Regions from separate parts of the Homo sapiens genome. Here all the other regions are linked to region 3. The links come from fine-mapping of genetic effects on gene expression. A gene starts in region 3. Each other region holds a variant in brackets. All regions are shown on one strand. Distances are between the middles of the regions.

Evidence for each region.
Region 1: its variant is fine-mapped to the expression of PLXNB2 in whole blood (TOPMed, PIP above 0.99).
Region 2: its variant is fine-mapped to the expression of PLXNB2 in whole blood (INTERVAL, PIP above 0.99).
Region 4: its variant is fine-mapped to the expression of PLXNB2 in whole blood (TOPMed, PIP above 0.99).

The regions. Positions count from the first base shown.
Region 1 is chr22:50,328,500-50,336,598 of GRCh38, forward strand. It overlaps a transcript of PPP6R2 not described here. Among named protein-coding and RNA genes, the nearest start is that of DENND6B, 5.5 kb to the left of the region's middle. RefSeq lists a silencer at 3,795-3,984 and an enhancer at 5,593-5,722. The variant C/T (reference allele first, on the strand shown) is at 4,010.
Region 2 is chr22:50,271,471-50,279,569 of GRCh38, forward strand. It overlaps PLXNB2 (plexin B2), which reads right to left. Exons shown (of 37, transcript NM_012401.4): 28 at 7,385-7,541; 29 at 7,126-7,226; 30 at 6,965-7,049; 31 at 6,647-6,801; 32 at 6,383-6,543; 33 at 6,121-6,268; 34 at 5,372-5,436; 35 at 5,159-5,234; 36 at 4,419-4,493; 37 at 3,509-4,338. The coding sequence ends at 4,234. Among named protein-coding and RNA genes, the nearest start is that of MAPK11, 5.1 kb to the left of the region's middle. RefSeq lists enhancers at 207-746, 747-1,287 and silencers at 250-599, 4,835-4,904. The variant T/C (reference allele first, on the strand shown) is at 4,390.
Region 3 is chr22:50,303,743-50,311,841 of GRCh38, forward strand. PLXNB2 (plexin B2) reads right to left here and starts at 3,904. Exons shown (of 37, transcript NM_012401.4): 1 at 3,811-3,904. It overlaps DENND6B (DENN domain containing 6B), which reads right to left. Exons shown (of 20, transcript NM_001001794.4): 20 at 5,288-8,099. RefSeq lists enhancers at 1,558-2,757, 2,147-2,516 and silencers at 3,065-3,215, 3,736-3,805, 3,816-4,015, 4,176-4,225, 4,926-4,975.
Region 4 is chr22:50,345,765-50,353,863 of GRCh38, forward strand. The region is part of intron 1 of PPP6R2 (protein phosphatase 6 regulatory subunit 2); the gene reads left to right. Among named protein-coding and RNA genes, the nearest start is that of PPP6R2, 6.5 kb to the left of the region's middle. The variant C/T (reference allele first, on the strand shown) is at 4,863.

The DNA.
Region 1 (8,099 bases), 25 kb after region 3:
TTACAGGCGTGAGCCACTATGCCAGGCCCGACTGTATAGCTTTTATTTTTATTTTTAGAGGAAAGGTCTCACTCTCTCCCAGGATGGAGTGCAGTGGCCCATTGCAGCTCACTGCAGCCTCGATCTCCTGGCTCAAGCTATCCTGCCACTCAGTCTCCTAGGTAGCTGAGGCTACAGGCACACGCCGCCATACCCCATTATTTTTTTATTTTTATTTTTTGTTCGTTTTTGTGGAGATGGGGTCTCGTGCTGCCTGGGCTCATTTTCATTTCTCTTGGGCGTGCATAGAAACCAAATTGCTGAGGCATAACCTGGGTATATGTTTAGCTTTCCCCAAAGCAGCCATACATTTAAAAACATTCCTACCAGGCCAGGCGAGGTGGCTCATGCCTGTAATCCCAGCACTTTGGGAGGCTGAGGCTAGTGGATCACCTGAGGTCAGGAGTTTGAGACCAACCTGGCCGACATGGTGAAAACCTGTCTCTACTAAAAAATACAAAAATTAGCCAGGCATGGTGGCGGTCACCTGTGATCCTAGCTACTCAGGAGGCTAAGGCATGAGATCGCTTGAACCTGGGAGGTGGAGGTTGCAGTGAGCCGAGATCAAGCCACTGCACTCCAGCCTGTGTGACAGAGCGAGACTTTGTCTCAAAAAAAGATAAAAAAAGAAAATGGAAACATTCCTACCAACAGTTTATGTTTCCTTTGCTCCACATCCTTCCCAACATTTGGTGTTGCCAAGCGTCTTCATTGTAGCCAGCCAATGAGTGGGTAGTGGTATCTTGTGATTTTTAAAATTTTGTTTATTTTATAGAGAAGAGATCTCATCCTATCACCCAGGCTGAAGTTCAGTGATGTCATCATAGCTCACTGCAGCCTGGAACTCCTGGGCTCAAGGGATCCTCCTTCATTGGCCTCCCAAGTAGCTGTAACTACAGGCATGTGCCACCGTGCCTGGGTATTCTTGTGGTTTTGATTTGCATTTCCCTGATTACTAATGGTCTTGAGCATTTTTTTCCCCTGTGGTTATTGCATGCCATCATTGTAAGATGTACTCTGATTTTGAGGTAGGAGGCAGAACTTTATTCCAGACCAGATTAAAGACTGGCTGAAGGCCGGGCGCGGTGGCTCACGCCTGTAATCCTAACACTTTGGGAGGCCGAAAAGGCGAGCAGATCAGCAGATCGAGACCATCCTGGCTAACACGGTGAAACCTCATCTCTACTAAAAGTACAGAAAATTAGCCGGGTGTGGTGGCTGGTGCCTGTAGTCTCAGCTACTCGGGAGGCTGAGGCAGGAGAATCACTTGAACCCAGGAGGCGGAGGTTGCAATGAGCTGAGATCGCACCACTGCACTCCAGCCTGGGCGACAGAGGGAGACTCTGTCTCAAAAAAAAAAAAAAAAAAAAAAAGCTGGCTGAAACTGGGAAGAGGCAAAAGCACCGCTCCATGAGACATGCCCACCAGTGCCATCTCTGTTTACCATTGCCATGGCAACACCCACAAGTTACTGCCGCTTCCCATGATAACCACCCCAAAGTTAACGACCTTTTTCTAAAACTTTCTGAATAACTTGCACCTTAATTTGTACATAATTAAAAGTAGTTGGCCGGGTATGGTGGCTCACGCCTGTAATCCCAGCACTTTGGGAGGTCGAGGCGGGCAGATCATGAGATAAGGAGATCGAGACCATCCTGGCTAACACAGTGAAACACCGTCTCTACTAAAAATACAGAAATTAGCCAGGCGTGGTAGCGGGCACTTGTAATCCCAGCTACTCGGGAGGCTGAGGTACGAGAATCGCTTGAACCCAGGAGGCAGAGGTTGCAGTGAGCTGAGGTTGCGCCATTGCACTCCAGCCTGGGCGACATACTGAGGCTCTGTCTCAAAAAAAAGAAAAGAAACGAAAAAAAAACAGAGAGAGAGCCGGGCGCGGTGGCTCATGCCTGTAGTCCCAGCACTTTGGGAGGCCAAGGCGGGCGGATCATGAGGTCAGGAGAGATTGAGACCATCCTGGCTAACACAGTGAAACCCTGTCTCTACTAAAAATACCAAAAAAAAAAAAAAAAAGCCGGGCGTGGTGGCAGGCACCCTTATCCCAGCTACTCTGGAGGCTGAGACAGGAGAATGGCGTGAGCCCAGGAGGCGGAGCTTGCAGTGAGCCGAGATCGCGCCACTGCACTCCAGCCTTGGGCAACAGAGCAAGACTCCGTCTCAAAAAAAAAAAAAAAAAAAAAAGAAAAGAAAAAAGAAAAAAAGAAAGAGAGGAGGCTTAGAGTCAGAGAAGTCAATGTGGTGCTGGGATCTGAGAAAAAGAACCTGGAAGATGGTCAGTTGCTGGCTTTGAAGATGGAGGAAGACACTAAACCAAGGGATGCAGGACAAGCTGGAAAAGGCAAGGACATAGATTTTCCCTGGAGCTTCCCAGAGGAAGCCAACATCTGGATTTTCGTCCCATAAGACTCATCTCAGATTTGTGAGCTCCAGGACTGTAAGGTAATAAATGCGTGTGGTTGTAAGCCATGACGTGTGTGGGGACCTGTGTCAGCAGCAACCGGAAACTACTGCATGGACGATCTAGTTTATTCTGCCTGGTTTCTTGTGCCTCACGTTATGTTTTTGAGGTCATGCATGTTGTTGCATGTACCAGTAGTTCATTCCTTTCGTGAATAGTATTTTATATGATGTTTTCGTGTCCATTTACCATTTGAAGGACATTTGGATTATTTCCAGTGTTTGCTTATTATGACTCATGCTGCTGTGACATTTGTGTACAAGTCTCGGTGTGGACACACGTTTCCATTTTTTTGGCATAGATATGTAGGAGTGAAAGTATTGGGCTGTATGGTAAGTTTATATTCAAATGTTGGAGAAATTATCAAACTTTTCCGAACAGTTTTACATTTCCACTAGGAATGTATAAAGGTTCCAGTTCTCCACATCCTCCCCAACGCTTAGTATTATTGTTCCAGCCGTTCGAGGGGGTCTGCAGTGGTACTTTCTTGTGGGCGAGTTTGGCATTTCCCTGATGATTAATGGTGTTGAGCATCTTATGTGCTCCTAAGTCATTTGTGTTAGCTTCTTTAAAAAAATGTTTATGCAGCTTTTTTGCCTATTTTTTTTAACTTCTTTTTTTGAGACAGAGTCTCGCTTATGTCACCTAGACTGGATGGAATGCAATTATGTGATCTCAGCTCACTGCAACCTCTGCCTCCCGAGTTCAAGCAATTCTCCTGCCTCAGCCTCCCGAGTAGCTGGGATTACAGATGCATGCTACCATTCCTGGATAATTTTGTATTTTTAGTAGAGACGGGGTTTCACCATATTGGCCAGGCTGGTCTTGAACTCCTGACCTTGTGATCCACCCGCCTTGGCCTCTCAAAGTGCTGGGATTACAGGCGTGAGCCATTGCATCCGGCCCTATTTTATTTTATTTTATTTATTTTGGAGAGACAGGGTTTTGCCATGTTGCCCAGGCTGGTCTTGAACTCCTGGGCTCAAGCAATCTTCCTACCTCAGCCTCCCAAAGTGCTGGGATTACAGGTGCATGCCACCACACCCAGGTATCTTTTATGTTTCTTAATGGCATCTTTTGAAGATCAAATATTATAATTCTGATGAAATCTAATGTACCATTTTCTTTCATGGATTATGGTTTTGGTGTCATATCTAAGAAATGTCTTAACCTAAGGTCCTAAGTCAAATAATACTTTTTATGTTTCTTCTAGAAGATTTTTTTTTTTTTTGAGATGGAGTCTTGCTCTGTTGCCCAGACTGGAGTGCAGTGGTGCAATCTTGGCTCACTGCAAGCTCCGCCTCCCAGGTTCACCCCCCCATTCTTCTGCCTCAGCCTCCTGAGTAGCTGGGAGTACAGGTGCCCACCACCACACCTGGTTAATTTTTTGTATTTTTAGTAGAAGCGGGGTTTCACTGTGTTAGCCAGGATGGTCTTGATCTCCTGACCTCGTGATCCGCCTGTCTCAGCCTCCCAAAGTGCTGGGATTACAGG[C/T]GTGAGCCACTGCGCCTAGCCTCTTCTAGAAGATTTTTAGCTCTTATATTTAGGTCTGTGATTCACTTTGAATTAATTTTTGTGTATGGTATGAGATAAGGAGATAAGGTTTAAATCCTTTTTTTTTTTTTTTTGAGATGGAGTCTCGCTCTGTCACCAGGCTGAAGTGCAATGGCGTGATCTTGGCTCACTGCAGCCTCCACCTCTTGGGTTCAAGCGATTCTCCTGCCTTAGCCTCCCAAGTAGTGGGTACTACAGGCACGCACCACCACGCCCAGCTAATTTTTGTATTTTTAGTAGAGACGGGGTTTCACCATGTTGGCCAGGATGGTCTTGATCTCTTGACGTCGTGATCCACCCGCCTCTGCCTCCCCATGGGCTGGGATTACAGGCCTGAGCCACCACAACCAGTCCTAAATTCTTTTTTTATATAGATAATCAGTTTTTCCAATACCATTTGTTGAAAATATATTGTTTTCCCATAAAATTGACTTAGGAGCGAGGTGTGGTGGTTCAGCTACTTGGGAGGCTGAAGCAGGAGGATCACCTAAGCCCAGGAGGTGGAGACTGTAGTGAGCTGTGATCGCACCAGTGCACTCCAGCCTGGGTAACAGAGTGAGACCTCATCTCTAAATAAATAAATAAATAAACTTAGCACTTCTGTTAAAAAAATCAATCGATGATAATTGTGAGGGTTTTTTTTAATTCTCTATTCTGTTCCCTTGATCTATATGCTTTTCCTTATACTAATTCTGTCCTGTCTTCATTATTCTAGCTTTGTAGTAAGTTTTGAGATCACGTAGTGTAAGTCCTCCAGCTTTGTTCTTTTTCTTTTTTTTTTTTTTTGAGACGGAGTCTCGCTCTGTCGCCCAGGCTAGAGTGCAGTGGCACAATCTTGGCTCACTGCAAGCTCCGCCTCCCGGGTTCACGCCATTCTCCTGCCTCAGCCTCCTGAGTACCTGGGACTACAGGCGCCTGCCACCACGCCCGGCTAATTTTTGTTTTTAGTAGAAACAGGTTTCACCGTGTTAGCCAGGATGGTCTCGATCTCCTGACCTCGTGATCCGCCCACCTCGGCCTCCCAAAGTGCTGGGATTACAGTCATGAGCCACCGCGCCTGGCCCCAGCTTTGCTCTTTTTCAAAATTGTTTTGACTATTTTGTGTAGGGTCCAGCCCTACAGGGCCTGTTGGTTTTTCTTTTTGTGTGTGGAGACGAGAGATCGTAGAAATAAAGACGCAAGACAAAGAGATAGAAGAAAAGACAGCTGGGCCCTGGGGACCACTACCACCAAGACATGGAGACCGGTAGTGGCCCTGAATGCCTGGCAGCACCGTTATTTATTGTTTACAAGGCAAGAGGGCAGGGTAAGGAGTGTGGGTTGTCTCCAATGATAGGTAAGGTCACGCGAGTCACGTGTCCATGGGCCAGGGGGCCCTTCCCTATTTGGTAGCCAAGGTGGAGAGAGAGAGAGGACAGGTAACGTCATTATTTCTTTTATGTATTTCTTGGAGAGATCAAATACTTTAATACTTTCACTAACTTTGCTACTGCTATCTAGAAGGCGGAGCCAGGTGTACAGGGCGGAACATGAAAGTGGACTAGGAGCGTGACCGCTGAAGCACAGCATCACAGAGACGTTTAGGCCTCCGGATGGCTGCGGGCGGGCCTGACTGATGTCAGGCCTTCCACAAGAGGTGGTGGAGCAGAGTCTTCTCTAACTCCTTTTCCTGGTCCGCTGAGTAACAGGTGCCTTCCCAGGCTCTGGCGTTACCGCTAGACCAAGGAGTCCTCTAGAGGCCCTGTCCGGGCGTGACAGAGGCTCACCCTCTTGTCTTCTGGTCACTTCTCACCGTGTCCCTTCAGCTCCTATCTCTGTATGGCCTGGTTTTTCCTAGGTTATACTTGTAGAACAAAGATTATTATAATATTGGATTAAAGAGTAATGCTATAAGCTAATAATTAGTAATATTCATATATAATCATATATATAATCTATTTCTAGTATAGCTTCTCGTCGTATATGTTTCCTTTATTATACTGGAACAGCTTGTTTCTTTGGTCTCTTGCCTTGGCACCTGGGTGGCTTGCCGCCCACAATTTTGATCATTTGCATATCTATACAGATTTCAGTATTAGCTTGTCAATTTCCACCACCAACAAAAACACCTGCTGAAGCCAGGTGCGGTGGCTCACGCCTATAATCCTAGCACTTTGGGAGGCCAAGGTGGGTGGCTCACTTGAGCTCAGGAGTTCAAGACCAGCCTGGCAAACATGGTGAAACTCTGTCTCTACTAAAAATGCAAAAAATTAGCTGGGTGTGGTGTCGCGTGCCTGTAGTCCCAGCTACTTAGGAGACTGAGGCAGGAGAATCGCTTGAACCCAGGAGGCAAGATCGCACCAACTGCACTCCAGCCTGGGCAACAGAGTGAGACTCTGTGTCAAAAAACAAACAAACAAATAAAAAACACCTGCTGAGATTTTGCCAGAGATTACATTGGATCCACAGATCAATTTGGGGGAGAATTGCTATCTTAACAATGTTGAGTTGTTTTTATTTTTGAGACAGGGTCTCGCTCTGTCGCCCAGGCTGGAGTGCAGTGGCGCAATCTCGGCTCACCACAACCTCCGCCTCCCAGGTTCAAGCGATTCTGCTGCATCAGCCTCCTGAGTAGCTGGGACTACAGGTGCCCGCCACAACACCCGGCTAATTTTTTTTTTTTTTTTTTTTTTTTTTAGTAGAGATGGGTTTTCACCGTGTTAGCCAGGGTGGTTTTGATCTCCTCACCTGGTGATCCACCTGCCTTGGCCTCCCAAAGTGCTGGGATTACAGGTGTGAGCCACCGCGCCCAGCCATAATTTTTGTATTTTTAGTAGTGACGGGGTTTCACCATATTGGCCAGACTGGTCTCAAACTGACCTTGTGATCTGCCCGCCTCGGCCTCCCAAAGTGCTGGGATTACAGGTGACAGCCACCGCATCTGGCCCTTGTTTTTTGTTTTGTTTTGTTTTGTTTTGTTTTTGAGACGAAGTCTCACTCTGTCGCCAGGCTGGAGTGCAGTGGTCCAATCTCGGCACACTGCAACTTCCACCTCCTGGGTTCAGGTGATTCTCCTGCCTCAGCCTCCCGAGTAGGTGAGACTACAGGTGCGCACCACCACACCCAACTAATTTTTTTTTTTTTTTGAGATGGAGTCTCGCTCTGTCACCCAGGCTTGAGAGCAGTGGCGCAATCTTGGCTCACTGCAAACTCCACCTCCTGAGTTCACGCCGTTCTCCTGCCTCAGCCTCCCCAGTATCTGGGACTACAGGCACCTGCCACCACGCCCGACTAATTTTTTTGTATTTTTAGTAGAGATGAGGTTTCACCATGTGGGCCGGGCTGGTCTCGAGCTCCTGACCTCGTGATCCGCCTGCCTTGGCCTCCCAAAGTGCTGAGATTACAGGCGTGAGCCACTGCACCCAGCCACAATGTTGAATGTTTTTTTTCTTTTTGAGACAGAGTCTTGCTCTATCGTCCAGGCTGGAGTGCAGTGACACAATCTTGGTTCACTGCAAGCTCTGCCTCCTGGGTTCACGCCATTCTCCCACCTCAGCCTCCTGAGTAGCTGGGATTACAGACGCCTGCCACCATGCCCGGCTAATTTTGTTTTTGTATTTTTAGTAGAGACGCGGTTTCACCATGTTAGCCAGGATGGTCTCGATCTCCTGACCTCATGATCCACCCACCTCGGCTTCCCAAAGTGCTGGGATTACAGGTGTGAGTCACCGCGTCCAGCCTGAATTTTTAAACCAATTTTAACCAAAAATATGACATGTCTGTCAACTTATTTAGGTCTTCTCCAACTTTTATCAGCAGGGTCATTATTTTATTTTATTTTATTTTGAGATGGAGTTTCGCTCTTGTTGCCCAGGCTGGAGTGCGAAGGCGCGATCTCAGCTCACTGCACCCTCCACTCGCGGGTTCAAGTGATTCTCCTGCCTCAGCCTCCCAAGTAGCTGGGACTACAGTCGTGCATCACCATGCCCAGCTAATTTTTGTGTTTTTAGTAGAGAAAAATTTTTTTTTAGAGACTGGGTCTCACCGTATT
Region 2 (8,099 bases), 32 kb before region 3:
CATGCGGACCGCGGCGAAGGAACGGGTCTCAGTCCCAGCCGCTCCGGCCCCTTTTGCATGACCAAGCCCCGTGCCTCAGTTTCCCCATTGGAAGCCGGCATCCGGCTGGGGGCCTGGCGCGGGCCCGGGGATGGCCCCTCTCCTCGCTCGGGCTGGGTTGGGGCGAGGACACGGGCAGCCTCCCCGAGGGCCCCCGCCCGGGAGCGCCTTTCACTGGGCCCGGCCGAGGCGGGCCGAGGTTTTGTGCAGAGTTAATGGAGCTTCAGCTAAAGGAGGAGGAGGCCGGAGCGCAGCCCCGGAGCTGTGGGAACCGCGGCCGCGGCCGCCGGGGGAGGGGAGCGGCCTTTGTCTGCGCCGCGGCCGGGCGGGGCGGGAGTCGGGTTCCCATGGCGACCGGCCCCGCCCCTGCGCCTCCCCGTGGACTGGGCGGCTCCGTTCTCGCCCCTAGGGTGGGGGACATGGAGGTGGGGAGGTGTCAGGCTTCCCCCAGGCGTCCGCCCGCAATCCTCGCGGCCTCGCTGCAGGCCCCGGCCGCTCAGCAGGTCAGGCGGGCGTGTGGGGTGGGGGTGGGGGCGGGGGGCGGTGGAAACGGGCCCCTCTCATCACTGAGCTGACCTGCCCCGGGAACCCCCTGCCTGCCCAGGCATTAGAGGTCCCGCCCATGTGCCTACTGGGGACAGTGTGGGGTCGTGGCACTGCAAGGGAGTGATCACTGAGGAGTTTCGGGTGGCGTCAGGGCCTGGAGGCCATCTTCCAGGAGAGGCACCTTCAGAGCTCGGCGGGGGCAAGGGAAGCCCCCCTGGAGGGAGCCGCCGGTGGAGGACAGTCCCAGGCCCAGAGGGGAAGCGGCAGGGGAGCCAGGAAGGGCCGGTGGCAGGGCAGGAGTGAGAAGCCCTGGGCCAGAGGCGCCTCTCCTACCCAGCTGATTCGCTGTGGCCCCTGAATACAGCAGGCCACCCCTTCTCCGTGCTCATGCCCCCACCCCACCCCCGCTGGTCCTGGCCACCCCTCCTCACTGGAGCTGTCACTGTGACAGCTCCTCTCTGGTCCTGCTGGTCCCTCCCAGCTGGCCTCTTCCTGCAGTCAGTGAACTTCCTAAAAGGCAAATCTGGCCTTGCTCACCGGGAGACCAGGCGATGGTGGTCGCGGAGCTGATTTAGCAGGGGACTTGTCCTGCCTGTAAGAAGCAAGCAGGATGTAGCCTTGGGCTGTTAAGCTACCCGCCACCTCTCCTCCCACCACTCTGGGAGGAAAATGGGACTTGGAAAGCACCAGGAAGGACAGGCCACCCCTCGTCTGTCGCCAGCTGACCACTCCAGCCCACCGCATGCACCCCAGCAGCTATGCCCAGCTTCTACCCGGTGCCTGCCCCCACCCAGATGCTGGACTGCTGGGCCTGCAGCCTCTCCCCAGCCCCAAGTTTCATGTGTGTGGGGTCTCACTGACCCTTCCCTTCTTTCCTGACTGCCCAGTGGGACAGGGAAGAGGTGGACTGCAGGGGTCTAGTACGGAAGCCAGGCCTCCAGGTTCCCAGCTCCCTACTTGAGACCTCCCGCTCAGCACTTAAGCCTTCGGTCCACCCCCTTGCTCTGATCTCCTGACCAGCCATGTCTCTGGGTAAGGGGGGAACCCAATGTCATTTCAGGGATCCTTGGAGCAGGGGATGTCAGTTGGCCTTGTACCCCTTTCTCTTGTGGGGGAGAGATGGCCACCCGTTTTTCATCGTGGCTTGAATGGAGCTGTGTGGGCGGCAAGCCACCCAGGCACCGAGGCAAGAGAGAGGACACGAGCTGTTGCAGTATAATAAAATATAAAACAAGAATAGTTATACCAGATATAGATCTTAGATATGATTATATATGAATATCATTAATCATTAGTTTGTAGCAATTACTTTTTATTCCAATATTATAATAATCCTTGCTCAATAATCATAGCCTAGGAAAAACCAGGCCATACAGAGATAGGAGCTGAGGGGACATAGTGAGGTGTGACCAGAAGACAAGAGTGGGAGCCTTCTGTTATGCCCGGACAGGGCCACCAGAGGGTTCCTTGGTCTAGCGGTGACGCCAGCGTCTGGGAAGACGCCCGTTACCAGGCGGGCCGTGGTCCAGCCGTAGCAAAAGGTGTCAAGGAACAACACCCACTACTTAGCAGACCGGGAAAGAGGGGGGGGGGTCTCCCTTTCCCCAGGGGAGTTTAGAGAAGACTCTGCTCCTCCACCTCTTGTGGAGGGCCTGACATCAGTCAGGCTTGCCCGCAGTTATCCAGAGGCCTAAACGTCTCCCTGTGATGCTGTGCTTCAGCGGTCACACTCCTAGTCCACTTTCATGTTCCATCCTGTACACCTGGCTCTGCCTTCTAGATAGCAGTAGTAAATTAGTGACAATACTAATAGTCCCTGATATGCAGAAATAATGGCGTAAGCTGTCTTTCTCTCTGTCTCCTCTCTCTCTCTGCCTCGGCTGCCAGGCAGGGAAGGGACTCCTGTCCAGTGGACACATGACCCACGTGACCTTACCTATCATTGGAGATGACTCACATTCTTTACCCTGCCCCTTCTGCCTTGTATCCAATAAATAACAGCGCAGCCCGACATTCGGGGCCACTACCGGTCTCCATGCATTGGTAGTAGTGGTCTCCTGGGCCCAGCTGCCTTTTCTCTTATCTCTTTGTCTTCTGTCTTTATTTCTACACTCTCTCGTCGCCGCACACGGAGAGACCCACTGACCCTGTGGGGCTGGTCCCTACAGAGCTGCCCCAGTCCAAAGGGGACTCGATCAATGGAGGCCTTGCCCATCAAGAGACCCCAGCCATGACGTGCCCAGGTGGGGAGACAGGCTGGGGCTGCCTGAGAATGGATCCTCGTGAGTGGGTTAGCAGTCCAGACCAGCAGAACCTCAGGATGTGTGCCTGGATCCAGCCACATTTGAAGCTGGGCCTTCACTTTGTGTCTGGAGCACCGAATGCCCTCTGCCTGGGCTGTCTGTATTCTTGGCACACAGGGGAGGCTCTGAGCCCTGCCCGTCCTGGTTGCTGCTGTTCCTAGCGCTCAGGACAGTGCATGCGTGGTGTGCAGCGGGCATTTGGTAAGAATGTGTTGCACGAAAGAAGCCACCAGATGGCACCAGAAGCAGTCCCACCTCCCACCCCCCCCACCTCCCCTCAGCACCTCTCCCAGCCCCCTCCACCTCCCCCCAGCACCCCTCCCAGCCCCCTCCACCTCCCCCAGTACCCCTCCCAGCCCCTTCCACCTCCCCCAGCACCCCTCCCAGCCCCCTCCACTTCCCCCCAGCACCCCTCCCAGCCCCCTCCACCTCCCCCCAGCACCCCTCCCAGCCCCCTCCACCTCCCCCAGTACCCCTCCCAGCCCCTTCCACCTCCCCCAGCACCCCTCCCAGCCCCCTCCACCTCCCCACAGCTCCCCTCCCAGCAGGACCCACAGAGCCCAGGGAAGGGGTGGTGGACAGGGGCACTGCAGCCCCAGGAGGAACACTCAGCCAACCCGCAGAGTGAAAAAGACGCTGTATTTGATTTACAATGAACAAGATTTACAAAAAGGGGTGGGGTGGTCTTGGAACTGCTCCCAGTCCCCCCGGACTGGGTGGGGCTCTAGGGCAGCCTGTCTGACAGACCAGGACCCCAGGATGTCTGGGCCCCGACGTAGGACTTGACCTACGTCTCACTTGACCTTTGACGTGGGGCCCAGCAGCCGTGAGTCCACCCAGAGTGCCGGCACCCTTGGGGAGGCCGGTGAGGTCAGGAAGGCATCGTACCGCTTTTTCTCCTCCTCCCATCTCGTGGTGGACAGACAGACATAGGATCTGGGAACTTGCCCTGGGGGCCACAGGCCCTCAGATCCCCCAGGGGCCCAACCTAGGGCATGGAGGCGGCTGCTGGTGCGTGGGCGGAGGCGGAGGCCAGCTGCCCCCAGCGTGGCAGCGTAAGGCACATTTTCAAATCACTGGAGACTCGACAGTGAACACCCGATGCTGGTTCTGCGGCCGGAGGGAGCTGGGGCTGGGGCTGGTGCTGGTGCGGTGCCCGGCGGTATTGCTCAGAGGAAGATGCTACAGTCTAGACGCTGGGCGGGTTCCGGCTGCACCCACTCCGGCTTGGGGCGCGTTCCAGGGGAGGGTGGGGGCCTCAGCCACAGCCACTCGGCCTCCTCCCCTGAGGGGCTCTCAGGTACCTCAGGTACCTATGTCCCAAGGCAGCACTGGAGATTGTAGGTCAGAGGTCAGTGACCTTGTTCTCCAGTGCAGCGGCAATCTGCTGCAGGCGGAAGGCCAGCTGCATCTTCTGGGCGGCAGGATCCTCCTCCAAGGCATTGATGATCTGAGGGAGGGTCGCATCAGAGCACACCGGGGGACCGCCCAGCACCCCACC[T/C]GCCCCCGCCCCCGGGGGCCTGACCCTACCTCGTCATAGTACTTCTGCGTGTATTGGTAGAGCTGGTGGAGTGCCACGAGGGTGTTCAAGGAGTCCGTGTGCGCCTGGGGGGTGACGGGACAGTCAGGGTGGAAAAGGGGCTGTGGGAGCCCCAGGGCTGGCAGGAGTAGTACGGGACGCCCAGGACGAGGCCTCCCCGGGGAAGCAGCTGGGGCCTTGGGCACAGCTGGCACTTGGGGCCCCCCATGTGGCACAGCCTCAGACAGACACCCACGCAGGCAGAGTTGTGCACATCCAACCATCTCAGTGTCTCCCTGTGTGACGCACGGCTGTGGATGGACCCACAGGGACGGGTGCTGTGAGCAGGGCTGTGGGTGGAGCCGCAGGGAGGGGGCGCTGTGGGCACGGCCGTGGGTGCAGCCGCAGGGAGGGGGCGCTGTGGACACGGCCGTGGATGGAGCCGCAGGGAGGGGGCGCTGTGGGCACGGCCGAGGGTGCAGCCGCAGGGAGGGGGCGCTGTGGGCACGGCCGTGGGTGCAGCCGCAGGGAGGGGGCGCTGTGGGCAGGGCCTGGCTCCAAGCAGGAGCAGCTCATACTCCCCACACGCAGCTGTGGCTCACTTCACATGGCCGAGCCCACCTCGAGGTCCCGCCCCACCCTCTCTCCCCCTCAGCACCACATTACCCCTGCCCTGCAGCTCAGGGCCAGGCTCAGCATGGGGTAGTGGGAGCGGGGAGGGCTGTGGGTGCGTCCCTGGTGGTCTCCTTACCCGGGAAATCTCTGCCAGGTGTGTGTTCATGTCCTGGTCGCTGACCTGCACCATCTGCCGGATCCCCTTGTAGTAACTGCAGGGGTGGGAGCATCATACAGTGTGGGCGGCAGGGACCACAAAGGGGGTGGTGGGGGAAACCAAGGCCTGAACCTCCCCGCAGGGGGTCGAGGGTGGGCATGGGGGCCTGGCCTGGAGGGCAGGCAGACTTACTCCTCCACCATCTTCTTGTAGGTGGAGATCTCCTTGGCGTACAGCAGCTTGTTGCTGGGAGAATCCTGTTGGGGACAAAACCCAGTGATGCCTGGCCAAGGGGGCCAGGCTGGGGCTGCTCAGAGTACCCCTGGGTAGCTTCCCCTGCCCCGAACTCCTGACACTTTCATCAAGAAAACTATGGGCCGGGCGCAGTGGCTCAGGCCTGTAATCCTAGCACTTTGGGAGGCTGAGGCAGGCAGATCACCTGAGGTCAGGGGTTCGAGACCAGCCTGCCCAACATGGTGAAACCCCGTCTCTACTAAAAATACTAGCCGTGCGTTGTGGCACATGCCTGTAGTCCCAGCTACTCAGGAGGCAGCGGCGGGAAAATCGCTTGAACCTAGAAGGCGGAGGTTGCAGTGAGCAGAGATCGCGCCACTGCACTCCAGCCTGGGCGACAGAGAGAGACTCCATCTCAAAAAAAAAAAAAGAAAACTACTTATTTTGTGATCTGTAGTAAAACTCAGTTTCTCTGCTCGTGTGCTGTGGTGAGAGGTCTCAGGAGGAGAGAGGGCAAGGGCTCTCGGGATCTCCCAGGCTCTGCCGGGCCCCTGTGCCCCCAGCCTCCGCCACCCGTCACCTCCTACATCAAGGGCTCCAGCCCAAGATATTCAAATCCACACCCCAGACAAGGTCCCAACTCACAAGATGCCTCCTGGGGACAGACCCAGGCCTCCCTGCCCCAGACCTGCCCCCACCCCACTCACGCGGCTCAGCTTATGCTCCGTGCGCGTGCAGGCATCCATGAAGGTCTGCGCGATGACTGACAGCGAGGCGTCCACCACCTCGTGGACATGCACGTCAAAGATGAAGTGGGGGTTCTTGAGGATGTTCACCCAGAACCGGAGCGGTAAGCTGAGGCAGAGCAGCAGGGAATGAGAGCCGGGGCTGGGCCGCGGGGTGGGTGTGGAGCCTCCCAAGTGAGAGGCGGAGCCGGGGCTGGGCCGCGGGGTGGGTGTGGAGCCTCACCTGTTCGTCTTCCAGATGTGGATGGTGTCTTCATCCTGGATGTTGTGCTTCTCTGCCTGCTCGTCCAGGAAGTCGAAGAAGTACTTGACTGCAGGTGGCACCGCGTGCCCAGGCGCCAGCACGCTCTGGAAGAAGTTGTCCACAAACTGCTGCAGTGTGCCCTGTGGGGGGGAGGGTCTCAGCGTGACGCCGTGGGCGCGGCTCCTGGGGGGGAGGGTCTCAGCGTGGCGGCCTGGTGCCGCCCACACACCCATGGGGGCCCACCTTGACTGAGAGCAGCCGCGTCAGGTAGATCTCGGTGATGGCCTTCGTCCGCTCCTTCTCTTTCACGCTGCCTCTCTTGGACTTGCCCTCGTCCACCTCGTCGGTCGGCCGCACCAGGTGCCACACCCGGTTCTCCTCCTCCAGGAGGGCATGGCCTGTGGGGAGCGGGCACTGAGGGACCCCTACCCAGGTCTGGGGGCCTGGGTCCCACAGGGAGCAGTGGTGGCAGGGTGGGCAGGGGTGCATGTGTCCAGGGCAGACATGGTCCACGCTGACCACCAGGGGCTGGAAGGAAACGGGCAACAGGGAGGGACTCACGCTCCCCAGGCAGGTCCTGCTGGCTGTCCTCCGGCTGCTGGGAGACCCCCACCTTGGACAGGATGAGGGTGGCTCCATCCCGGACCTGGGGAACACGGCGGTGAGGGTGGGCTGTGCCCCCAGGGTGCCCAGTTCTCGCCCGCCCCGGCCTACACGCTCACATTGTAGTGCATAAGGGTGTTGACGCGCTTCCACCGGCCCTCCCGCTGTGACGTCAGGTCCAGGTCCGACAGGATCTGCGCTGTGGAGCCCGGACGCCACTCTGTGGGAAGAGACAGCCCAGCTTGGGCCCCAGCCACCCAGGTTCCTCCCACTGCCCACCACTCCCATATGAGAAAGCTGGCCAGGCAGGATACCGCCCCAGGACACAGGCCAGGCACATGGGCGCCTGTGTGCAGACGGGCAGGGGCCGGCACTCACCCAGGACCACGCTGTCTGGCCTGGGCCAGCAGGAGCAGGGCTGCCCACGGTACACCTGGTCAATGATCTTCTCCTTGACCTGGGAGATGGTGTCACAGTTGAGGACCTTCACCGGGATGGCGTCCACTCCCTCGTCCTGCACGATCACGCTCACCGTCTGCCGAGACATCCGGGATGAAGCCCAGTGGGAGGCCCTGCTCTTACCTGCACCATGCAGGAGCCACTCCCTGCCCCGCCAGCTTTGCCCACCACAGCGGCACCCTTGGGCAGCAGGCCCCCGCCAGCCCGGCTCCGAGCCCCCGAGGCTTCCCAGATGACCACACTCTGCCCTTCCCCTGCCTGCTCCGGCTCAGCAGGACAGAAAGACGGGGACGGCTCAGAACCGCTCACTCAGGCTGTCACGCAAGCTCATGGAAGCACATGTACAGACACAGAATACACACGTCTCACACATGCACAGGCTCCTGCCACACCCACTGGTCATGTATGCACAGAACCCTGGACACACCTGGTGTGCCAGGCCCTTGTATGGCCTCCAGGAGGTGGGGGCGCCCGGGAAGAGCTGATGCGGGGCCCGCACACTTAGAGCCTCCAGAGCCCACAGCCACCAGCACCCAGGCCCCTCCCTGAGGCCGAGTTAGAGCAGGCTGTAACTCGAATCCACAGAGGAGGTGGACGGCCTCTGGCCTGTGGGTCCCATCTGTGGCCAGGGGAT
Region 3 (8,099 bases):
GCCCTACCCCCAGGAGCCCAGTCCCTGCCTCTGATGCTGCTGCTGCTGGGACCCTGCTGGCAGAGCTGGTGGCTGAACTGGGGCAGCACCTCCCTCTCCTGCCCCAGGCCTGGGCCGGGACTCAGCTGGCACTGGAATGAGGAACTATTGGCTTTCAGAAGCCAGGAGACCTTAGGGGGCTGAGGAAGAGAGCTGGACCTGCCCCCAGGCGCCCTGATCCCAGCCCAGGGCAGTCTCCTCCCTCACCTAGCCTGGGACATGAGGCAGCTCAGGTGTGGCCTTAGGGGCTACCCCCAGGGAAGGCCACCAACCATAGCGGGCCACGGTGTGGGCTGGCCTCTGGGTGTGAAGGGCTCCAGGATCTGGGCTGCAGAGGCGGGACTGTGCGAAACAGAACCCCCAGCTCCACAGCCAGGCCAGCCCCAGGCTCCTCCCCAGACAGACATCCCCGGGGGTGGGGCAAACCTGCAGTACCACCAGGGGCAGCCTGTCCCACCATCCCCGGCACCACTGGGCCTGGGGCCAGTCACTGTCACAGGTTCATGAATCTCACAGGGCAGGGTGGATCCACTGGGGGGGTGCGGGGTGCCAGTGTTCAGGGCCAGACGGGAGGGGCCCAGCCAATCCCTTCACACGCTTGGTCTTCAGAGAGAAGGCTTCTGAGCCAGGAGGGCCACTGTGTCAGGGCCTGGCTTGAGGCCACACCTGTGGCTGGGGGAGCCCAGAACAGTGCAGGGTCCTTCCCTGGTAGGCAGAGAAAGGCAGGGGTCCTTACAATCCAGGGGTATGGGAAGAAGCAGGCCCTGTGTCAAGGGATGTGAAACCACGGAAAGGAAGAAGGTGGAGGAACCTCGACCAGAAAGAGGGAAGCTAGGGCAGCTGCCTCCCCGGGGCCCCAGAGCCTGAGCACCCCCCACCAGCCAAGGCTCTGACCCACCCTCCCCATCGTGTAATTAGTCAGAGACCCAGCCCCACCCCACCCACAGCCCCACCCCAAACACAAACAGCCACTACCCCTGAGGGAGGGAGGGGCTGTGGCCAGTCCCAGCCCTACTGAATCTCCCACCCCCAGAGAACCTGGATCTGCCTCAGAGAAGGGAGGTCAAGGCTGGGGGGCCACTTGCTGGCCACTGGGTGAATTCTGAGCAGCTCACCACCTCATCCCCAAACCGTGTCCAAGGCAGGCTCTGGGCACAAGAGGTTCCCCGCCAACTTCCAAGGAGGGCGGCCAGGCTGCAGCCAGAGGGACGGAGGCATGAGCTGAGTGAGAACTCCCAGCTCAGGGGAAGGCAGCCCTCGTGGCAGAGGCCTGGCATCCAAGTGCCTGCCTAGCTCAGAGAAGGCACAATATGAGGGGCCGGAAGACACAGCCTCTCCCAGCCAGTGCACCCCTGCCCACGCCCGCGTCCCAGGGGGACCATCAGCTGTGGCTGGCACAGGGTGAGGCAGGGGGCAGGACACGGTGAGCACGGACGACGTCCTGGGATGGGAGGAGGACTGTGCCATATGGGCCCTCCCCACCACCTTCCAATCCAATCTCTTCTGCTCCACTTCCCTGGGCCGGGTCCAAGGCTCTGGGCTTTCTGCACTTGGGGCCAGCTGCCGGCTCCTCCTCCCCGATGTGGTCCCCATGCAGGCCGCCGGGCACACACCCCGGGCGCACACACAGCATGGACCCAGAGCGCCAGGTAGCCACAGCCCTGGCCACACAGCATCGCAGATGACTCCTCACATAGACCTATCTCTGGCCTCAGTCTCCCCACCTGCAGGATGGGCTCACAGGCGCCATATCCAGAGGGGGTCGTAGGCAAGGACTGGCTGTCGGAGGGGCTTGGAGGGAGGCTGGTCCGTTAGTCAGGAGCTGAATAGGGAGTCCGTTGGGGCAGGAGGGCCCCCTGAGGGAAACCCCAGTGCCCTCCCTAGCAGCCTAGCCTCGCTCCTGCCTGCTCCTCCCTGGCACGCACAGGTCACTGGCACAGGGTGTGTCCCTGAACTTGGGCCTGGAGGGTACCTCAGAGGCTCTTCAGACCACCATTGAGACTTCTCGGGGCGAGGGGGTCCCTGGGTGGGGCGAGGGGGTCCCTGGGTGGGCCCAGAGCTCCTCCTGTTCCATGGTCTCCCCCAGAGGGGCTTGGGCCCACTGCAGGCTCAGCAGGGCCTGCTGGGGCCAACCTTGGGGCTTTCTCCAACCCAAAGGTGACGCATCTTCTCCCCGCCCAGTCTGGGCAGCTGCAGTAGAAAGTGGCAGAGCTGCCCGGACTTGCCCGTCCTCCTCCTGGGGCCCTCAACCCACGTCCCGGAAGTGGATCCTTCTCCCACGCTGCAGCCTCCCGCTTCGGGTGACTGGACACGGCTGGATGATCCAAAATAATTCTTTCTTGGCAGGCAGCCGGTGGGGGAGGGGGACTCACATTCCAAACCCTTGTTTTTCTCAGTAACTTCCCTCCTCTACTGGGGCAAGGAACCCCTGGCCAGACCTCAGGCCTCCCAGACCCCCCGGGACAGAGGTGGGCCCCCCATAGGTACCGTGGGAGGACTCAGATGTGCCAGGCCCACCTGCTTGCTTCTCAGTCGGCTCTGGGGATTTCTATGCAACATGCAAAAAGCTGACTCGCCACAAACCTATGCCTGCTGGCCCTGCCCTCCGGGAGACCCTCACCTCTGGACAGGAAAGGGAGGGCTCCTCCCACCAGCTGTTCAGCTGTTCCGTGCCAGGGTCATCTGGGCATGGGGCAGGCTGAGAGCCCCCACTTCCCGGCAGCCTCGCTCTCCCACCCGCAAAGGGCTCCTGAGGAAGCTCAACTTTAAAGCCTCACAGGCTGCGCCGAACCTCCAAGCAAGGGCCGAAGTCAGACATTAAGTGGGGAGGGCGGGGGGGTCCAGGGAAGGTGGGGCACAGGGAGCCCTCCAGGCCGCCGGGATCTGCCGGGTTTGGGGCCCACCCTCACCCTCACCCTCACCCTCACCCTCACCCTCACCCTCACCCTCACCCCCTGTCCTGACTCTGCCACAGCCCACAGTGGGCAGACGGACCCCTTTCTTCCTTTCCCAGGGAGCTTCGGGAAGAGAAATCAAGGGCCTGGCAGGAAGCCCCAGGGCGTCCGGGCTCTGAGACCCCCAGATGACAGGGGGAGGCGGGCTCCCCAGATCTGCCGAATAGCCCGACCAGGGGCGCTGGCAGGGCAGGGGCTTCCTGCAGGAGCAGGGTGCGGAGGGGCAGGGTCAGCAGGGGACAGGCAGGGCTCGCGCCCCCGCTTCTGAGACTTTCTGTGTCTCGGGGTGTCCACCCAGACGCCACTCTGGGAACCGCGAGGAGGCCCAGGCAGTGGGGTCTCGCCAGGTGCGGGTGCTCTCCGCCCTGGTCCCCCCGCGCCAAGCAGGCCCCAGGGGGTGCGGGGACGGCCCCCGGGAGCTCGGGCAAATCCAGGCTCCTGTGCCGCTGAGCCTGGGGCCGGCCCGGAGCGCCCGCACCGCGAGACCATCTCCGCTCGGCGCACGGAGCTCGGCGGCTGAAGAGTGAGAGGCAGGCGCGGAGGAGGGATCCGACGCGGCTCCGGAGGGACGCGCAGCCCCCGCCGCCGGGCCCGTCCCCCGAGTCAACACCGGGAAGGGAGTGGGGCGGCAGCGGCCCGGGCCTCGCCGGATGGACCGACGGACGGGGCCCAGGCCCCGGGAGCCCTCCGCGGAGCCGCAGCCGCCGCAGGTCCCCGGGCCCCAGCGCGGCAGGCCCGGGCGGAGCGGCGCTGACGGCGAAGCCCCCCCCACGCCCAGCGAGACGTCCCCCGCAGCCCAGTCCCCCGAGCTCGGTACCTGCACGTCCGCCGCCAAGGCTCGATGGCGCCCGGGCCGCGCTCGGCGCTGCGCTCTGGCCCGCGCTGCTGCCATGGAGACGGGGCCTTTGTGTGGCCGAGGAGGGGCCGGAGCGCGCGGGAGCTGCCGGCCCCGCCCCCGACGAGGGAGAGGAGGGGAGGGCGGGGAGAACAGGAGAAGGGGGGAGAGGGAGAGGGAAAGCGGAGGGGGAGAAGGAGGGGGAGGGGGAGGGGGGAGAGGGGGAGGGGGGAGAGGGGGAGGGGGAAGAGGGGGAGGGGGAGAGGGGGAGGGGGAAGAGGGGGAGGGGGAGGGGAGGGGGAGCAGGAGCGGGGAGGAGAGGGCAGAAGAGAACCGGAGAGGAGGGGAGGGGACGGGAGGGGAGGGGCTGGGCCTGCGCTCCCCGCGCCCCCCACTTCTCCCCTGCCCAGCGGCCACAGCATTGTCTGGTAGGTTCAGGCACCCCAGTTCAGACCCAGGTTCAGCCAGGGCAGCACCCTGCCCACCATGCCGCCGTCCAGGAAGCACGAGCGCCCACAGAGGCCCCATGGCCTGAGCACCCCCACAGGAACCCCGCAGGTCTGAGGGGAGGCCATGGCTTGGTACCAGGGGAGGGCATTATGAGTGCACTCTCGCCTGGCCAGAGGAACGTGAGGGTCCCTGCCAGTCTTGAGATGTGTGGGCACCAGACTCTCACTCCCAGACTGGAAGCATACCAGTCGCTCCCCTGCGGCCTTCAGGGGTGGGGGCTGCTGGGCTTTGGCCCTTTCCCAGGGGTCTCAGGCCCTCAACCTCCCAGGGTAAACTGGGACCTGGAGATGGCCTCCCAGCACATCCCTGGCCTCCAGCAGCACCTTGGGATGCTGCACCCGGGACCCCACCTGGTCCTTCAGGGCCAGGAGGTGGGCGGGCCGAGACCTCTTTCTGGGGGTTCTGGTTTCTGGGACAGAGCTGGCCCCACTTCTGGCATCCCAGGTCCCAAGTCCTGGCCTCAGTGCTCCTAGTGTCCCCTGGGCTTGAGAAGAGGTGGTGAACCGTCTGCAGGGCCAGACCTTGGAGCACGCCTCCACTGCCCTCCCGGAACTGGATGTGCTGAGCAGGAGACAGAAGCATTCCCCAAGCTCTTGCCCCCACCCTGGGTCACCCCTCCCTGGGGCCCGCCTTCCACCCAGACCTGCCCCGTCCTTGCAGCTGGTCAGCTTCCTCCTGTCCCCAGCCAGGCATCCCCTCCTCCTCTGCTTCCCCCACCCGGGATCCGCCCCGCCACATCCTGACAAACTCCCCCAGCCTGACTTAGTTCTTTCAGTCTCTGCCTTCTCCCACCCTCAAGCAGCCAGGCCTTGTTCCTGTCCAAAATCTTCCCTTGGGCCTTGAACCACAATCCACATCACGGCAACCCTACCCTTCACTGCAGAGGACCCCAAAATTACCAGGTTCTGACAAGGTTGCCAACTTTTTATCAAAAAAGGAAAAGACAAGGTCCAGTCACAAAAGGACATTTTAATACCAAAACTGTGGGAAGGCCACTGTTCTAGACTAAAAGGGAGTCTTTAAATAGCCAGCAGGAAGCTTGAGGGTGAGCAGCTGTCCTTCCTGTCCCTGAGCAGGCCCCCTGTGTGCACCCTCAGCCCCGAGCCCCACTCCAGACCTGCTCCCAGCCCTTCCCACCCTCTAGGTTCTGTGGTCCCTGTCCTTCGGGAGGCCTGTGACCACAGCAGTCCTCACCCTCGCCAACTAAGTTCTGCCCAGCAAGCCCTCTTGCCTGCGGGGGCTGGCACTCTGGCCAGGGGTAGAGCTGTCTGGACCTTCCTGCCTCTTCACTGACTGCCCCTGGCCTGGAGTGCGTGGGGCGGGGAGGGCCATGGCCTAGCCCTGGACAGAGGCTCAGCCAACTCAGAGCGGCCCTGACACTGGGGGGGCCACAAGAGGCATCCGGACAGATGGAGCTGGCAGGTCTCCACGCCCAGCCCCCACCCATCCACCCCAGGCCACATTCCACCCCAGGCCTCTTCTGCACAGGTGGGGACAGGCCCTGAGGAAGAGGGGCTGGGACACTACCCCCCACCTTAGCCTTAGCTTCTGCCCAGGGCAATGCTGGCCACCCAGCCCGGTTCCCCCCTCAAGTTCCCCCTTCACACGCCACTATGTGGCCTCACCAGAGCCCTCCAGGGAAATCTGCTTGTGCATTTCTGGATACACAGTGGCCAGGGTCCCTGGGGGCTCCTCAGAGACCAGCCTGAAGCCCCTCCCCTGCAGCCATGTGGGTCTGCAGCCCTCTGTGCTGTGCGGCAGCCCTCAGAAAGCCAAGTGAGGCGAGACTGTGCTGTGGGGAAGCACATGCTGCCACGGTCCTTGGGGTGCGCTCCCCAAAGTGGGGTCACAGTTGTGAGAGAGGTGGGTTGTCTTCCCAAGCTGCCCCGACACCTTGAAGTGGTGGTCCTCAGGGGGCTGGTCACCAGCATAAGGCTTTTGCAGAGGGCCCTGGTGGAGGGCAGCTGATGGCAGGGCCTGTACTGGCCCCCCAGGCCCCATCTTATGGAGGTCAGCATTCAAGCTGCCCACACAAGAGGTGCCAGCATCTCTGCAGACCCTCTAGAGACCAAGCCCTCAGTGGGGAGGCTGGTCCCCCTGTGCTACAGTCAGGAGGCCCAAGCTGCATTTGGGGCCAGGACCTTTCTCACCCTCGGGTCCCCGGCTTGTCCCTGCCACAGAACAGGTTTGCCACCTCGGCCTCTATGTGTTCTGTTTCATGTGGTCACATCCTTGGACCCTGCACCAGACATCTGGGGCTTAACAGCTCCCCTTGGTCACCCTCCCGGCTGCCTCCGCGTCTTGTCTGTAGAATGGGAACAGGGACAGGCTGTCCTGGGCTGCAGTTGGGCTGGACAAGTTGACATGTACCAAGTTCTGAGAACTACCTGGCGCCCGGACACCTGACCCCGCTGTCCTTGTGGCTCAGTCACATCCTGCACTGAAGTGGCTGGCAGTGCTCGCTCTCCACCACCTGGCTGGAGGTCTGAGAGCACCAATGAGAACACAAACAGTACGTTGCGCTGAATGAAGGCTACATTCCTCGGACTGAATGGGGGCCTCAGAAGAAAAAGAAAAGTCCCGGCCGGGCGCGGTGGCTCATGCCTGTAATCCTAGCACGTTGGGAGGCCGAGGCGGGCGGATTACGAGGTCAGGAGATCGAGACCATCCTGGCTAACATGGTGAAACCCTGTCTCTACTACAAATACAAAAAATTAACCAAGCGCAGTGGTGGGTGCCTGTAGTCCCAGCTACTCGGGAGGCTGAGGCAGGAGAATGGCGTGAACCCGGGAGGCAGAGCTTGCAGTGAGCCGAGATCATGCCACTGCACTCCAGCCTGGGCAACAGAGCGAGACTCCATTTCAAAAAGAAAAAAAAAGAAAAAGTCCCTCCCCCAGCCCTGTGTCCCCTGGCCAGCACCCGCCCGGCCTCACAGGGTACAAAGCCCAGTCTCCATGAGTGGCCCTCCCAGCACCCTGTCGGGCATCTGCATGGCTGGCTCGCTCAGATGAGGAGTCTGAGGGTCTGAGTGGTCAGGGGACCTGCTCCCGGGCACACAGTGCGTGATGCTGAGCAGGGCTTGGCTGTCCGGAGCCCTGACAGTACCGTCACTGTGTGCTGTGCAGGGTCAACACCGTACCTCACCGGCCTCAGTGCCTGCAGGTGTCACGGGGGGAGCATACAACCCAGAGGTGGCTCTTAGGGACGTTCACCCCTTACCAAGGAAAGGGAGACATGCAGGCTCCAGCCAGAGGCAGGGTCAGGCCGAAGTCCAGAGCCCCTTGGGCTGCATGTGGGGGATGGACGGACACACTTGGACAACAGGAGCCCTGTCCACCTCCCAGAAGGGACGCACGGAGCTGGTGCCTGGTGGGGGCTCCAGGACTGGGAGCCAGGAAGGTGCTGTGGCTCTCCGAGAGCCAGGCTGAGCCAGCTCTCCTAGCAGAGGTGCTGGGCTGCACACAGCCCCCTGCCCAACCCCTACCTCCCAACAAACCACAGCCCCAAGCAGGTGGGTGTCCAGAGGAGCACCAGGGGTGGTGAGCAGAGCTCTTCACACTGCAAAGTGGTCTCTCCCTTTCTCAAGTTGATGACTATATGCAAAATAGCCTCCCATCCCCAGACAAGACGGGGGCTGTGTCAGGAGAGGGTCCCTCCTGTCCTGGGCAGCCTGTTGGGCTGAGGGAAGCATCACACACAGCGCAGGGGGGTCGGGGGCCAACAGATGGGCACCGGGAGGGGCAGACGGTAGACGCACCCAC
Region 4 (8,099 bases), 42 kb after region 3:
AGTTCCCCCCCCCAGTCAGTGCCCCCTCCAGTCAGTTTCCCCCCAGTCAGTGCCCCCCAAGTCAGTGCCCCCTCCAGTCAGTTCCCCCCCAGTCAGTGCCCCCCTCCAGTCAGTTCCCCCCAGTCAGTGCATCCTCTAGTCAGTTCCCCCCAGTCAGTGAACCCTCCAGTCAGTGACCCACCCAGTCAGTGCCCCCTCCAGTCAGTTCCCCCCCAGTCAGTGCCCCCCTCCAGTCAGTTCCCCCCAGTCAGTGCATCCTCTAGTCAGTTCCCCCCAGTCAGTGAACCCTCCAGTCAGTGACCCACCCAGTCAGTGCCCCCTCCAGTCAGTTCCCCCAGTCAGTTGCCCCCCAGTCAGTGCCCCCCAAGTCAGTCAGTTCCCCCTCCAGTCAGTTCCCCCAGTCAGTCAGTGCCCCCCAGTCAGTGCCCCCCCCAAGTCAGTCACTGTCCCCTCCAGTCAGTGCCCCTCCAGTAAGTTCTCCCCAGTCAGTGCATCCCCTAGTCAGTTCCCCCCAGTCAGTGCCCCCTTCAGTGTCCCCCAGTCAGTTCCCCTCAGTCAGTGCCCCCCCAGTCAGTTCCCCCCGCAATCAGTTCCCCCGTCAGTGCCCCCTCCAGTCAGTGCCCCCCAAATCAGTGCCCCCAGTCAGTGCCCACTCCAGTCAGTTCCCCTCCAGTAAGTGCCCCCCAAGTCAGTTTCCTCCCAAGTCAGGGCCCCCTCCAGTCAGTTCCCTCCCAGTCAGTCAGTGCCCCCCCAGTCAGTGCCCTCCTTCTGTTCCCCCACCCTACACCAGTCAGTGCTTCCTGCACCAGTCAGTGTCCCCTGCTAGCTAGTCATTGCACCTCACCCATCAGTCCCCACCCCACCCATCAGTGCCCCCCACCGTCAGTCAGTGCCCCTTGCAAGTCATGCTCCTCCTGTCGGTCAGTGCCTCCGCATCTGTCAGTCCGCGCACTGGTCAGTGCCTCCACTGTTGGTCAGTGCTCCCCCACCGTCAGTCCACTCTGCTCCCCATCAGTGTCCCCCAGTCAGAGTCCCGCATCCCTGTCCCCCGTCAGCCAGTGCCCCCCCAGTCAATTATTTTCTTTCTGTCATGTCCCCACTTCCCATCAGTGCCTGCACCCCCACCCGTACCCGTCAGTCACTGACCGCATAATCCCTCCCCTGCCAGTGCCCTTCCTTGTCAGTCCAAGCGCTCTGTGACCCCTTCTGTCAGCAATGTCCCCACCTGTCATTGATCTTCTCTGTCAGTGCCCCCCATCAGTGCCAGTGCCTCTGTCAGTGAGCCCCACTGTCAGTAAGTTTCCCTCATAAGTGTCTCCCTCATCCTGCCTGTTGTGGCCCTTCCGCTCTTTGCTATCGGCCTCTGTGTTAGTGCCTGTCAGATCCTCCCCATCAGTTCTCCCCTGTTGTCAGTTCCTGTCCCCTTTCATGCTACCTCCTTCATCCCTTATCTGTTAGGGACCCATTAGTACCCTGCCCTGCTGTTAGTGACCCCACCTGTCAGTGTCTCCCCACTGCTTCTCTCCTGCCTGTCAGTGGGAGAACTTTCAGTGCCCGCTGTCATCACCCCTCTTGTCCAATCACTGATTCCCCTTTCCATTATTTCCTAACCCTTTCCAACACTACTCGTCTTTTCCTGTCGCGCTCCCCATCACGGCTTGAGATATCACCAGTCATCTAACCTCACCTTACCCCGCACTGCCCTGTTGCTTCCATCCCCATCATCTCTTCCTTCAGCCTGTCACCTTCCCCCATGCACCGTACTGTCCCCCGACCTGCCACTCTGTGTACTCGCAGCTTCCCTACCTGCTTTGTCCACTCTCTTGTTACTGACTCCTCCCAATTTGCTGCTCATTCCCTGACCTGTCAGCACCAGCTCCCCCAAGTCTGTCACTTCCATTTAGTCCCTGCCTTTCACTGCAGCCCCCTCTTTGTCACTGTACCCACTGATTTTGTTCTAGACCCTTCTCCTGTGTCTTGTTCTTTCATCCACCCTTCCCTCATGGCCTCTCTCTGCCCTGCTCTTGGCTTCTCCTTGCCCCTGCAGTTGCCGACACTGTTCACTGTTCACTGAAAGAGGCTCTTCACCTCTTTTTGATGTCCCTTTTTCTGGTTTATCTTCCCTTTGTTTTTATTTTTTACTTTAAAATGTTGTGGGTACACAATAGGTGTATATATCTCTCCCCTTTGACTTTTCTAACTCACTTCAGTTAATCTTTGGAATGTGAGAGGCAGCTAGCTTTGAGACAAATTGGGGGACAGAGTCTCCCATGCTGAGAGGACAGCACATGCAAAGGCCCTGAAGTGGGAAATTTTGGGTGTGATATCCTCCAGGAACCTAGATAAGACTGATGTGCTTATGGTAAGGGAGAGAGAGGCAGGAGCCTGGGCTGGAAAGTTGGTTTTCTCATTAAGCCGTTCCTTGCAGGTGTTAGTAGGGAGTTGGACCTTCAGTCTGAGTTGTAGGAGAAACCTGGCCTGGAGATTGAGTTGGAGAGTGCCATGATCATATGGACATTGGCACGTGGACAGCAGGTGGGGGTGAGATGAAGTGTTGGGAGCTGGGTGTAGTGATTGTAATGGTTTAGAACTTGGTGGTGGGTTTAGGGAGATATTTTGGAGGTAGAGCTGTTGGGACTTGTTGGTAGATGAGAAGAGAGGTGTGAGAGAATGAATGGACTCAGGGTAATTTCTGGGCTGCTTTTATCCTCCCAGCCCCATCAACCCTTCTAGGCTTTCTGATGGAACAAATGGGTGGATAGTAGCACTGTTTATTGAAATAGGGAAGCTGAATTAGGGTGGTGTCAGGGCTGGGGGTGTTACTACAGTTTGGAAGTAGAAAGCAAGGCTTTCTCTTGGCTGAAAGTAGGGGAAGTCTGAGAAGTCCGAGGGTCACTAGGGAGAAGGTATCTTACAGGAGGGTCTGGAACCCAGAGGAGAGGCCAAGCCGCAGGTATACAACTGTCATCATGGGGGCAAGGTATAAAGCCTTGGGGATGGCTATTTATTTAAAAGCACATGGGCTGGGTGCGGTGGTTCACGCCTGTAATCCCAGCACTTTGGGAGGCTGAGGTGGGAGCATCACTTAAGGCCAGGGCAGCCTGGGGACATGACAAAACCCTATCTCTACAAAAACAAAAAGCAGGGCCGGGCGCAGTGGCTCACGCCTGTAATCCCAGCACTTTGGGATGCTGAGGCGGGCGGATCACCTGAGGTCAGGAGTTCGAGACCAGCTTGGCCAACATAGTGAAACTCCATCTCTACTGAAAATACAAAAAAAACTAGCCAGGCATGGTGGTGGGCGCCTGTAATCCCAGCTACTCAGGAGGCTGGGGCAGGAGAATCGCTTGAACCTGGGAGGTGGAGGTTGCAGTGTGCCGAGATTGTGCCATTGCACTCTAGCCTGGGCGACAAGAGTGAGACTTCCTCTCAAAAAAAAAAAAAAAAAAAAAAGTTGGGCATGGTGGTGTGCGCCTATAGTCCCAGCTGCTCGGACACTGAGGTGGCAGGATCACCTGAGCCTGGGGAGGTCAAGGCTGCAGTGAGCTGTGATCACTCCATTGCACTCCAGCCTGGGCGACAGCGTGAGACCCTGTCTCAAAAAAAAAAAAAAAAAAAAACGGGCTGGACGTGGTGACTCGTGCCTATAATCCCAGCACTTTGGGAGGCTGAGGCGGGAGGATCACTTGAGGCCAGGAGTTCTAGACCAGCCTGAGCAACATAGTGAGGCCCCATCTCTGCCAAAAATAAATAAAAGCACACCCACAAAAGCAGAATGTGGCCAGGCATAGTGGCTCATGCCTGTAATCCCAGCAGTTTGGGAGGCTGAGGCAGGTGGATCACCTGAGGTCAGGAATTCGAGACCAGCCTGGCCAACATGGTGAAACCCCGTCTTTACTAAAAATACAAAAAATTAGCCAGGCGTGGTGGCATGCGCCTGTAATCCCAGCTGAGGCAGGAGAATTGCTTGAACCCGGGAAGCGGAGGTTGCAGTGAGCCAAGATCACAACATTGCATTCCATTCTGGGCAACAAGAGTGAAACTCCATCTTAAAAAAAAAAAAAACAGAAAAAAGCAGCTGGGTGTGGTGGCCCACGCCTGTAATCAGTTTGGGAGGCCGAGGCGGGTGGATCACCTGAGGTCAGGAGTTCGAGACCAGCCTGAACAACATGGTGAAACTCCGTCTCTACTAAAAATACAAAAATTAGCCAGGCGTGGTGGTGCATGCTTGTAATCCCAGCTATTCGGGAGCCTGAGGCAGGAGAATGCCTTGAACCCAGGTGGTGGAGGTTGCACTGAGCCAAGATTGTGCCACTGCACTCCAGCCTAGGCAACAGAGCAAGACTCTGTCTCAAAAAGAAAAAAAAAGAAACCATTTTATTTGCTCATTCATTAAAAGCAGCTCCTTATCTGTTTTATCCTGAGATTGCAGCAATTCAGTCACATCTTCAGGCTCTACTTCTAGTTCTGTTACTTATTTTTTGAGACGAAGTTTCCCTCTTGTTGCCCTGGCTGGAGTGCAGTGGTGCAATCTTGGCTCACTGCAACCTCTGCCTCCCGAGTTCAAGCGATTCTCCTGCCTCAGCCTCCTGAGTAGCGGGGATTACAGGCGCCCACCACCATGCCTGGCTAATTTTTGCATTTTCTATAAAGATGGGATTTCACCATGTTGGCCAGGCTGGTCTCGAACTCCTGACTTCAGGTGATCTGCCTGCCTTGGCCTCCCAAAGTTGCTGGGATTACAGGCATGAACCACTGCGACCGGCCTGAAATGTATTTCTGAAATAATAAGAAAATTAGGCTGGGCGCGGTGGCTCACGCCTGTAATCCCAGCACTTTGGGAGGCCGAGACAGGCAGATCA[C/T]GAGGTCAGGAGATCGAGACCATCCTGGCTAACACGGTGAAACCCCGTCTCTACTAAAAATTCAAAAAATTAGCCGGGTGTGGTGGTGGGCGCCTGTAGTCTCAGCTACTTGGGAGGCTGAGGCAAGAGAATGGCATGAACCCAGGAGGCGCAACTTGCAGTGAGCCGAGATTGCCCCACTGCACTCCAGCCTGGGCGACAGAGCAAGACTCCGTCTCAAAAAAAAAAAAAAAATTACTCCTTGATCCATGGGCTGCAGTATGGAGTATGTTAGCAGGCATGACAACATTAGTCTCCTTGTACATCTTAATCAGAGCTCTTGGGTGACTAGATGCATGGTCAATGAGCAGTAATATTTTGAAAGGAATCTTTTTTTTCTGAGCAGTAGGTCTCAACAGTGTTTTTTTTTTTTTTTTTTTTTTTTTTTTTTTGAGACAGAGTTTCACTCTTGTTGCCCAGGCTGGAGTGCAATGGCGCAATCTTGGCTCACCGCAACCTAAGCCTCCCAGGTTCAAGTGATTCTCCTGCCTCAGCCTCCCTAGTGGCTGGGATTACAGGCATGTGCCATTGCGCCCAGCTAATTTTGTATTTTTAGTAGAGATGGTGTTTCACCATGTTGGCCAGGCTGGTCTCAAACTCCTGACCTCAAGTGATCCGCCCGCCTTGGCCTCCCAAAGTGCTGGGATTACAGGAGTGAGCCACCGCGCTCGGCCTGATTTAGCATAATTCTTAAGGGTCCTAGGATTTTCAGAATGATAAATGAGCATTCAATTTAAAAGTCACCAGCTGCATTAGCGAGTCAGCCTGTGCACTCAAGCTTTGAAGCCAGGCGTTGACTTACCCTGTCTAGCTATGAAAATCCTAGATGGCACCTTCTTCCAATAGAAGACTGTTTCATCTGTATTGAAAAATCTGTTGTTTGCCATAGCCTCCTTCATCAATTGTCCTAGCTGGATCTTCCAGATCTAGCGACAACTTCTATATCAGCATTTGCTGTTTTGTTTTTGTTTTTTGTTTTTTGTTTTGAAATGGAGTCTCCCTCTGTCACCCAGGCTGGAGTGCAGTGGTGCCATCTCAGCTCACCGCAACCTCTGGTTCCCGTGTTCAAGTGATTCTCCTGCCTCAGCCTCTTGAGTAGCTGGGATTACAGGTAGCCGCCGCCATACCCAGCTAATTTTTTTTTTTGAAACGGAGTCTTGCTCTGTCACCCAGTCTGGAGTGCAGTGGCGCGATCTCGGCTCACTGCAAGCTCTGCCTCCCAGGTTCATGCCATTCTCCTGCCTCAGCCTCCCCAGCAGCTGGGACTACAGGTGCACACCACCATGCCCAGCTAATTTTTTTGTATTTTTTAGTAGAGACGGGGTTTCATCGTGTTAGCCAGGATGGTCTCCATCTCCTGACCTCATGATCCGCCTGCCTCGGCCTCCCAAAGTGCTGGGATTACAGGCGTGAGCCACCGCACCCGGCCACACCCAGCTAATTTTTGTATTTTTTAGTAGAGACGGGGTTTCACCATGTTGGCCAGGCTGGTCTTGAACTCCTGACCTCAAGTGATCCTTCCGCCTCGGCCTCCCAAAGTGCTGGGATTACAGGCAAGAGCCATCGCGCCCGGCCGGCATTTGCTGTTTCACCTTGCACTTTAGTATGTTATGGAGGTGGCTTCTTAAACCTCATGAAACAACCTCCGCTAGCTTCCAGTTTTTCTTCTGCAGCTTCGTCATCTCTGTCATCCTTTGTAGAACTGAAAAGAGTGAGGGCCTTACTGTAGACTATTTAAGTCTGGTTTCGTCTTCTCTCCAAACCATTAAAACTTTCTGCAGGCATTGGGTGCGGTGTCTGACCCCTGTAATCCCAGCACTTTGTGAGGCTGAGGCAGGTGGATCACGAGGTCAGGAGGAGACCATCCTGGCCAACATGGTGAAACCCCATCTCTACTAAAAATACAAAAATTTGCTGGGTATGGTGGTGCGTGCCTGTAGTCCCAGCTACTCGGGAGGCTGAAGCACAAGAATTGCTTGAACCAAGGAGGTGGAAGTTGCAGTGAGCCAAGATCACGCCACTGCACTCCAGCCTGGTGACAGAGCGAGACTCTGTCTCAAAACAAAAACAAAAACAAAAAAAAAAAACACACAAAACAACAACAACGTAACTTTCTGCAGGCTAGGCACGGTTGCGCACACCTCTAATCCCAGCACTTTGGGAGGCTGAGTGGGGAGGATCGCTTGAGCTCGGGAGTTTGAGACCAACCTGAGTAATACAGTGAAACCTCATCGCTACAAAATAAAAGTTTAGCTGAATGTGGTGGTGCATGCCTATAGTCCCAGCTACTGGGGAGGCTGAGGTAGGAGGATGGCTTGAATCTGGGACGTCAGAGCTGCAGTGAGCTGTGATGGTGCCACTACATTCCAGCCTGGGCAACAGAGTAAGACCTGCCTCCAAACAGAAAGCAGCCTTCTCCGTGTCAGCAATAAAGCTGCTTTGCTTTATTATTATTTATGTCTTCACTGGAGTAGCAGTTTTAATTTCCCTCAAGAACCTTTCTTTGGCATTCACAACTTGGCAAACTGGTGCAGGAGGGCTAGCTTTTGGCCTGTCGGCTTTTGACATGCCTTCTTCACTAAGCTTAAGCATTTCTAGCTTTTGATCGAAATGAGAGACATGTGACTCTTCCTTTCCTACAGGATTAATTGACCTAACGTTATTACGTTATTACTGTTGTGTCTCAGGGAGTAGGGAGCCCTGAGGAGAGGGGGAGAGACTCAGGGAAATGGCCGGTCAGAACTTACGCAGCGTTTATTAAGTTTGCTATCCTATATGGGCACGGTTTGTAGTTTCCCAAAACAATTAAAATAGTAACATCAAACATCACCGATAACAGGTCACCATAACAGATAAAATAATAATGAAAGAGTTTGAAATATTGTGAGAATTACCAGAATGCAACACAGAGACACGAAGTAAGCACATGCTGTTGGAAAAATGGCACCCCTCGACGTGCTTGACGCAAGGTTGCTACCAGCCTTTAATTTGTAGAAAGCACATTACCTGCGAAGCACAATGAAGGGAAGCACGTTAGACAAAGTACGCCTGTGTTGTTTTCCATTTCACAGATGAGGAAATGGAAATAAACAGCAAGTAGATGATAGAGGCAAGATTTGTACCCCAGGTAGTGTGACTCAAAAGCCTCTCCCTTTTTTTTTTTTTTTGTTAAGGGAAAGGCTAACTTTTAAAAATATT